Linked DNA regions of Homo sapiens. Changing the gene in region 2 together with the main gene of any one other region gives a genetic interaction. Each region holds a gene or a part of one and is shown on either strand. Other genes may lie near its edges. The genes, in order: GBF1 and CHD8.

Region 1 (3,823 bases), on a different chromosome or scaffold from region 2:
ATCGTGTGGGCTGTGTGTGGCAGACTGTTCGAGACCATCTATACCACCTCTGTGTTCAGGCACAAGATTTCTGCTTCCTTGTGGAGCGGGCAGTGGTGGGGTTGCTACGCCTGGCCATTCGGCTTCTCCGGAGAGAAGAGATCAGTGCTCAGGTAAGCAGAATGCATCTTGGAGAGTGGGCAGGTATGCAAGGGATTAAGGCCACAGTTGTCAATTATGAATATGGCCTGAGACAGAGAGTACATTTAGTGCCCCATAGCATGAGTCCAGTGACCAACCACAGGGCTGGTGCAGTCTAGCGGGTGGTACTGGGAGTGAGCCTGGAATGGCCTCAGGCATGGAGCTTGTGTTTGGCACCTCAGCCTCCTATGAATCTGCTTTGTAGGACTGGCCTGCTACTGCCTTATAATAGTCTCAGCCCTATACCTGGTTTCCTGTCATGCTTATGACCCTCTTGAGATCTCTTTGCTTAACTACAAAAAACAACAAGCATAGAACTAATAAGTGGATTCAACAAGGTCACAGGATGTGAGATCAATACACAAAAAGTAATTATATCTCTACATGCTAACAATGAACAATATGGAAACTGAAATTTAAAATACAATACCATTTACAAGGGTTCCAAATAAAGTGAAATACTTAATATATAGCTGACAAAACATGTATAAGATTTGTATGATGAAAACTACAAAACTACAAAATAAATTGAAGAAGATGTAAATAAATGAAGAGGCATACTATGTTCATGGATTGGAAGGCTCAACATAGTAACTTTGTCACTTCTCCCCAAATTGATCTGTAAATTCAACATAACTCCTATAAAAATCCCAGAAAGGTTCTTGTAGACATAGGTAAGCTTATTCTAAAATTTAGATGGAAAGGCACAAGCTCTAGAATAGCTAGAAAGAATAAAGTGGAAAGAATCACTCTCTCTGGGCCGGTTGCTGTGGTTCATGCCTGTAATCTCAGCACTGCGGGAGGCCACAGCGGGCAGATCACTTGAGGTCAGGAGTTCAAGGCCAGCCTGGCCAACATGGTGAAACCCCATCTCTACTAAAAACACAAAAATTAGCAGGGTGTGGTGGCACACACCTGTAATCCTAGCTACTTGGGAGGCTGAGGCAGGAGAATCGCTTGAACTCAAGGCGGAGGTTGCAGTGAGCTGAGATCGCGCCACTGCACTCCAGCTGGGTGACAGAGTGAGATTCTGTCTCAAAAAAAAAAAAAAAGAATCACTCTGGTATTAAGACTTACTGTCCACTTTGGGGGGCTGAGGCGGGTGGATCACGAGGTCAGGAGATCAAGACCAGCCTGACTAACGTGGTGAAACCCCGTCTCTACTAAAAATAGAAAAATTAGCTGGGCGTGATGGTGAGCGCCTGATTGCTACTCGGGAGGCTGAGGCAGGAGAATCGCTTGAACCTGGGAGGCGGAGGTTGCAGTGAGCCAAGATTGCGCCACTGCACTCCAGCCTGGGCAACACAGCGAGACTCCATCTCAAAAAAAAAAAAAGACTTACTCTCGGCTGGACACAGTGGCTCACGTCTGTAATCCCAACACTTTGTGAGGCCAAGGCAGGCAATCACCTGAGGTTGGGAGTTCGAGACCAGCCTGACCAACATGGAGAAACCTCGTCTCTACTAAAAATACAGAATTAGCCAGGCATGGTGGGGCATGCCTGTAATCCCAGCTACTCAGGAGGCTGAGGCAGGAGAATCACTTGAACCTGGGAGGCAGAGGTTGTAGTAAGCCAAGATCACACCATTGCACTCCAGCCTGGACAGCGAAACTCTGTCTCAAAAAAAAGACTTACTGTATAGCTATAGTAGTCAAGATTATGTGGTGTCGATGGAGGGACAGACACGTAGATCAATGGAAAAGAATAGAGAGACCAGAAATAAGCTCAACACAAATATGTTCAGTGGATTTTTTGACCAAGATGTAAGAACAATTCAGTGGAGGAGGAATAGCCTTTTCAATAAGTGGTGGAGTGATTAAAATCCATAGGAGGAAAAACCAAATGAACCTTGACCTAAACCTCATACCTTACAGGAAAATTAACTCCAATGGATCATAGATTTAAATGTAAAGCTATAAAAACTTTAGAAACAGGAGAAAATCTTCAGGATCTAGAGCTAAGCAAAGAATTTTTAGCATGTTTGGCAGTCCTGTGGATCTGTCTCTTGCCTCAACACTGTCTGGATGGAACAGATCCGGGGGAGACTCTCTTTCAAAAAAAGTAATAATTTTTAGACTTGACATTAAAAGCACAATCTAGAAAAGGAAAAATTGATAAGTTGGGCTACATTAATATTTTTAAAAGTTTTGTTCTATGAGAGCCTATGTGAAGAGGATGAAAAGACAAGCTGTAGACGAGGAGGAAATATTTGCAAATCACATATTTGAAGAAAGGTATCTGTAATATAAAAACTCTCAAAACACAACAGTGATAAAACAATCCAATTATTAATAGAAAATGGACAAAACATAGGAACAGATGTTTCACCAAAGAACACATACAGATGGCAGATAGGCACATGAAATGAAGATAGCATCATTAACCATCAGAGTACTGCAAACTAAAACCACAATGAGGCTCACACCTGTAAGCCCAGCACTTTGGGAGGCTGAGGTGGGTGGATCACCTGAGGTCAGGAGTTTGAGCCCAGCCTGGCCAACATGGTGAAACCATGTCTCTACCAATAAATACAAAAATTAGCTGGGCGTGGTCACACACACCTGTAGTCTCACCTACTGAGGAGATTGAGGTGGGAGGATCGCTTGAACGCAGGAGGTTGCAGTGAGCTGAGATCGTGCCACTGCACTCCTGCCTGGGTGACAGAGCAAGACTCCAAAAAATAAAAACACAATGAGACATCACTACCCACTTTTCAGAATGGCTGAAATAAAAAGTAGTGACAATACCAAATGCTGAAAGGACGTGGAGAAACTGGGTCATTCATATATTGCTGGGTGGGAATGTAAAATGGTACAGCTACTCTGCTGGCAGTTTCTTATAAAATGAAACATATAATTACCATACAACCCAGCAATTGCACCCTTGGACATTTATCCCAGAAAAGTGAAAGCTTACTTTCTCATAAAAACCTGTACATGAATGTTTATAGAAGCCTTAGTTGTAATAGCCAAAAACTGGAATCGGCCCAGATGACTTTCAATAGGTGAATAAACTGTGGTACATACACACCATGGAATACTATTCAGCAATTTAAAGCAACAGACATCTCCAGGGAACTATGCTGAGTGAAAGAAAAGCCAATCTAAAAAGGTTATGTAATATATAATTCCACTTATATAACATTTTTGAAATGACAGAACTTTAGAATTTGAAGACAGGCTGGGCGCAGTGGCTCACACCTGTAATCCCAGCACTTTGGGAAACTGAGGCTGGTGAATCACTTGAGGTCAGGAGTTCGAGACCAGCCTGGCCAACATGGTGAAACCCCATCTCTACTAAAAATACAAAAATTAGCCAGGCGTGGTGGCTCGCACCTGTAATCCCATCTACTTGGGAGGCTGAGGCAGGAGAATCACTTGAACATGGGAAGCAGAGGTTGCAGTGAGCTGAGATCCTGCCTGCACTCTAGCCTGGGCAACAGAGTAAGACTCCATCTCAAAAAAAAAAAGAATTTGAAGACAGATTGCTAAGGATTAGGGATGGGGGCAGGAAGGAGGAGGTGGGTGTGGTTATAAAAGGGCAACATGAGCTGGGCATGGTGGTGCATGCCTGTAGTTCCAGCTACTCTGGAGGCTGAGACAGGAGGATCACTTGCGCCCAGGAGTTTGAGGCTGCTGTGAG
Region 2 (3,823 bases):
AAAACTATATTAACATTTTTCTGAGAAATGACAGTCCCCTGTCCCTCAGAATCATGTCTCTGAAAAGGTGTGAAACAAAGATCTTAAAAAACATGGTAACAGAATAAACAGAACAAACTCCCTCCAAGGCAAATATTTTTTCACATTATCCCTTCTTTGATCATAGCCCCCAATTTGAAAGGCAAACCAAGAGTATCTATCAGGATGGAGATGCACTATGCACTACCTCTAATGGTAAGTTGGGGTCTTACCCATATACCAGGAGATGCTTTTCCACCCGAAAGCAGTCAGTGCGCCCATAGGCATGATGACGGTCATGTCTGCGGGAGCGTGGCCGCTCATCATCCTCACTTTCCAAATCAGAGAATTCCACCAGGTCATCATCTTTCAGAGTGCTAAAGTGGCGCGTTTGTTTTCGTACTCTAGGTGTGTCAATTACCAAATTATTCTATGAAGAGAACAGAAGGAGAAGTAATTCTCTTCCTGATTTGCTCATGGGAAAAGAATAAGACAATTAGGGATTACAATAACATTGGATGTAACGTGTAGATACTCAGAGATTTTTTTAAATGACATGTAAAATAATCTACAGAAAGCAAAATTATTCAGAAAGCAACTACTTTTCTGGGGCCTCCTAGGTAGAAAGTATCCACAACAGCCCTTGTATACAATACACCATCATAAATCACAATTAGCATCAAATAATCAGAGTAGCTGTAAAGACTCCCGAAAGTAGTGTGGTCTTCTGCGATACTTCCTCCCTAAAAGAAGAAACTCACCTTGCTGTTGAGCAGATCCATGTCTAGGTCAGCCTTTTTGGCCCACTTTTGCCAAAAGTTGGGGTCATCCAAAGAAATATCTGTCCTGTTTTCAGAAGCAACAAAGCTTGCCTAGAGAAAAACAAATGCAGAGGTAAAGCTGACTTTTTTTTTTAAGTGGTGCAAAATCAGCAATTATGTTTTAAAAACATTTTTTTTTTGAGACACAGTCTTGCTCTGTTGCCCAGGCTGGGGTACAGTGGCACGATCTCCGCTCACCGCAACCTCCACCCCCTGGGTTCAAGTGATTCTCCTGCCTCAGCCTCCCGAGTAGCTGGGACGACAGGCGCAAGCCACCATTCCTGGCTAATTTTTGTATTTTTGGTAGAGATGAGGTTTCACCATGTTGGGCAGGCTGGGTCTCGAACTCCTGACCTCAAGTGATCTGCCCGCCTCAGCCTCCCAAAGTGCTGGGAATATAGGCATGAGCCACCATCCCCAGCATAAAAACATAATTAAATCCTAGAGATTCCGGTCTCTGTGTTTTTCTAGCCTCTGGCATAGACAGAACATGCCTTAGCAAAGGTGGAACCTTTTCCTTCAGATTCAATGGTGATGGTTGTAGTTCGTCTTAACAAGATCTGGTCAATGTCCTCTTCACAAAACTTGGAGCCTTCATCATCTTCCTCCATGATGGCTGCATATGCTCCTTTTCTTAAAAGATCTTCAATCTCCTTCTTAGAGAACTGTTGGATCTGTAAAAACCAATAGAAAGATGAAAAGACTATCAAGAGAATAATATCTAACCATGCCATAATATTTTAGCTATTATATTTTAAGAAATAATAATTGAGAATCCAAACAAGGTAGTCAAATCCCTGTGTACAAATAGCTTTTGTTTCCCTCTATCACAATGATCTACTACAAACTTATCTATAAACTAAGAGGACTCACTCCAGTAATGTTGCCATCCCGACCACTCATGGATTGAAGCACAGCCTTATCCAACCCCAACTTGAGGCTGGCCTTATCAAACATCTCTCTCTCGTAGGAATTACGAGTGATGAGGCGGTACACCTTCACAGCTTTGCTCTGCCCAATTCGATGACATCGTGCCTGGGCCTGGTTTAAAATAAAAACGAAAGGAAAGGAGAAAGATATCATAAAATTAGCAAGGGAAAGGATACAAAATACCAATTTATGATTCTTTCACCTCTATAGAGCAGCCATGAGATCAACTCAAAACCAAGAGTCAATTTCAAGATGAAATTATCACCCCATCATGTAGACCAGGGGTCAGCAAACTAAAGTCTGTGTGGACATCTGTTTTTAAAAATAAAGTTCAATGGGGACACAGGTGGGACCACCCACTCATTTACATATTATCTATGGCTGTTTTTGCGCTACAGGACTTGGAGATAAGCAGTTGCAACAAAGACTCGATGGCTCACAAAGCCTAAAACATTTACTGTCTTGTCGTTTACAGAAAACGTTTGCTGATTCCCTGACCTAACTGCCACCCTTAACTAAGGAAACAATTCCAAACTCTGTGAAAGGTCTTTCTAAAAGATCCTATTCTTGTTGAAAAATCTCCCAAGTTAGGTAGTTAGTCCCTAAGACAATGAATTCCTTTACCTGCAGGTCATTTTGTGGATTCCAGTCTGAATCAAAGATGATGCAGGTATCAGCAGCTGTAAGATTAATACCAAGTCCACCAGCCCGGGTACACAGTAAGAAGACAAAGCGGTCTGAGTCAGGCTTGCTGAAGCGGTCAATGGCAGCCTGTCGAAGGTTGCCTCTAACTCGCCCATCAATACGTTCATATAAGTACCTGTATGGGAATCGCAGAAAAAAAATGTAAGTGGCTAAGCAGAAGTGGAGACCAAAACAGCAGGCTAGGATCAATACCAGTACTCCCATATCAAAGCTGGTCAAAAACCCAAGTTGAGAGTGAGAATCTTAAAAACTTCTCTTATTGCAATTGGTGAACTCTAATTAAATCCAGGCCCTCCTACTTTTTGCTGCTTTATGAGGACAGAGTAACCACAGGCTAGGATGACTCTTTTCTTACCTCCTCTGGATTAAATAATCCTCTAGGATGTCTAGGCAGCGCACCATCTGAGAGAAGATCAGAACTTTATGGCCACCAGCTTTAAGCTTTGGAAGCAACTTGTCAATAAGAACCAGTTTGCCGGCTGAACGAACCATGGCCTGCAGGTGAAAGTCATGAGGTATAATATGGCAAGCTTCACGGAATTCTGTTAGGATTTTTTCTTCAGCACCTGCCAAAAGAAAAATCAAATTATGTTGAGATCCAGTGAACCATATTAAGGTTGTAGTCTATTTAACTAAGAAAGCAAAAGGAAAAAAATGTAATTTGACTTAAGACCAACATTTCTCACACACAGAATTTCAGCACAAAAAAGTCTTAAATCGGCTGGGTACGGTGGCTCATGCCTGTAATCCCAACACTTTGGGAGGCCGAGGCAGGTGGATCACTTGAGGTCAGGAGTTCGAGACCAGTCTGGCCAACATGGTGAAACCCCGTCTCTACTAACAATACAAAAATTAGCCAGGTGTGGTGGCGGAGGCCTGTAGTTCCAGCTACTCAGGAGGCTGAGGCAGGAGAATCGCTTGAATTCGGGAGGTGGTGGTTGCAGTGAGCTGAGATTGCGCCACTGCACTCCAGCCTGGGTGACAGAGCGAGACTCCACCTTAAAAAAAAAAAAAAATCAGCCGGGTTCAGTGGTTCACGCCTGTAATCCCAGCACTTTGGGAGACCGAAGCGGGCAGATCACCTGAGGTCAGAAGTTCGAGACCAGCCTGCCCCATGTGGCGAAACCCTGTCTCTACTAAAAATACAAAAAATTAGCTGGGTGTGGTAGCAGGCGCCTGTAATCCCAGCTACTTGGGAGGCTGAGGCAGGAGAATTGCTTGAACCTGGGAGGCAGAGTTGCAGTGAGCCGAGATTGCACCACTGTACTCCAGCCTGGGCGACAATAGTGAAACTCCATCTTAAAAAAAAAAAAAAAAAAAAAACTTAAATCATCCTCAGATGTGTCATA

The links.
Region 1: changes in CHD8 (region 2) and GBF1 together harm fitness more than expected from each alone (negative genetic interaction), as found in Homo sapiens cells (one study listed by BioGRID).

The regions. Positions count from the first base shown.
Region 1 is NC_000010.11:102,370,709-102,374,531, forward strand, and holds part of GBF1 (Golgi-specific brefeldin A-resistance guanine nucleotide exchange factor 1), read left to right. Parts: coding exon 1-152; intron 153-3,823. UniProt on the Homo sapiens protein: Guanine-nucleotide exchange factor (GEF) for members of the Arf family of small GTPases involved in trafficking in the early secretory pathway; its GEF activity initiates the coating of nascent vesicles via the localized generation of activated ARFs through replacement of GDP with GTP.
Region 2 is NC_000014.9:21,400,624-21,404,446, forward strand, and holds part of CHD8 (chromodomain-helicase-DNA-binding protein 8), read right to left. Parts: intron 3,041-3,823; coding exon 2,830-3,040; intron 2,590-2,829; coding exon 2,394-2,589; intron 1,881-2,393; coding exon 1,713-1,880; intron 1,514-1,712; coding exon 1,334-1,513; intron 891-1,333; coding exon 780-890; intron 449-779; coding exon 252-448; intron 1-251. UniProt on the Homo sapiens protein: ATP-dependent chromatin-remodeling factor, it slides nucleosomes along DNA; nucleosome sliding requires ATP. Acts as a transcription repressor by remodeling chromatin structure and recruiting histone H1 to target genes.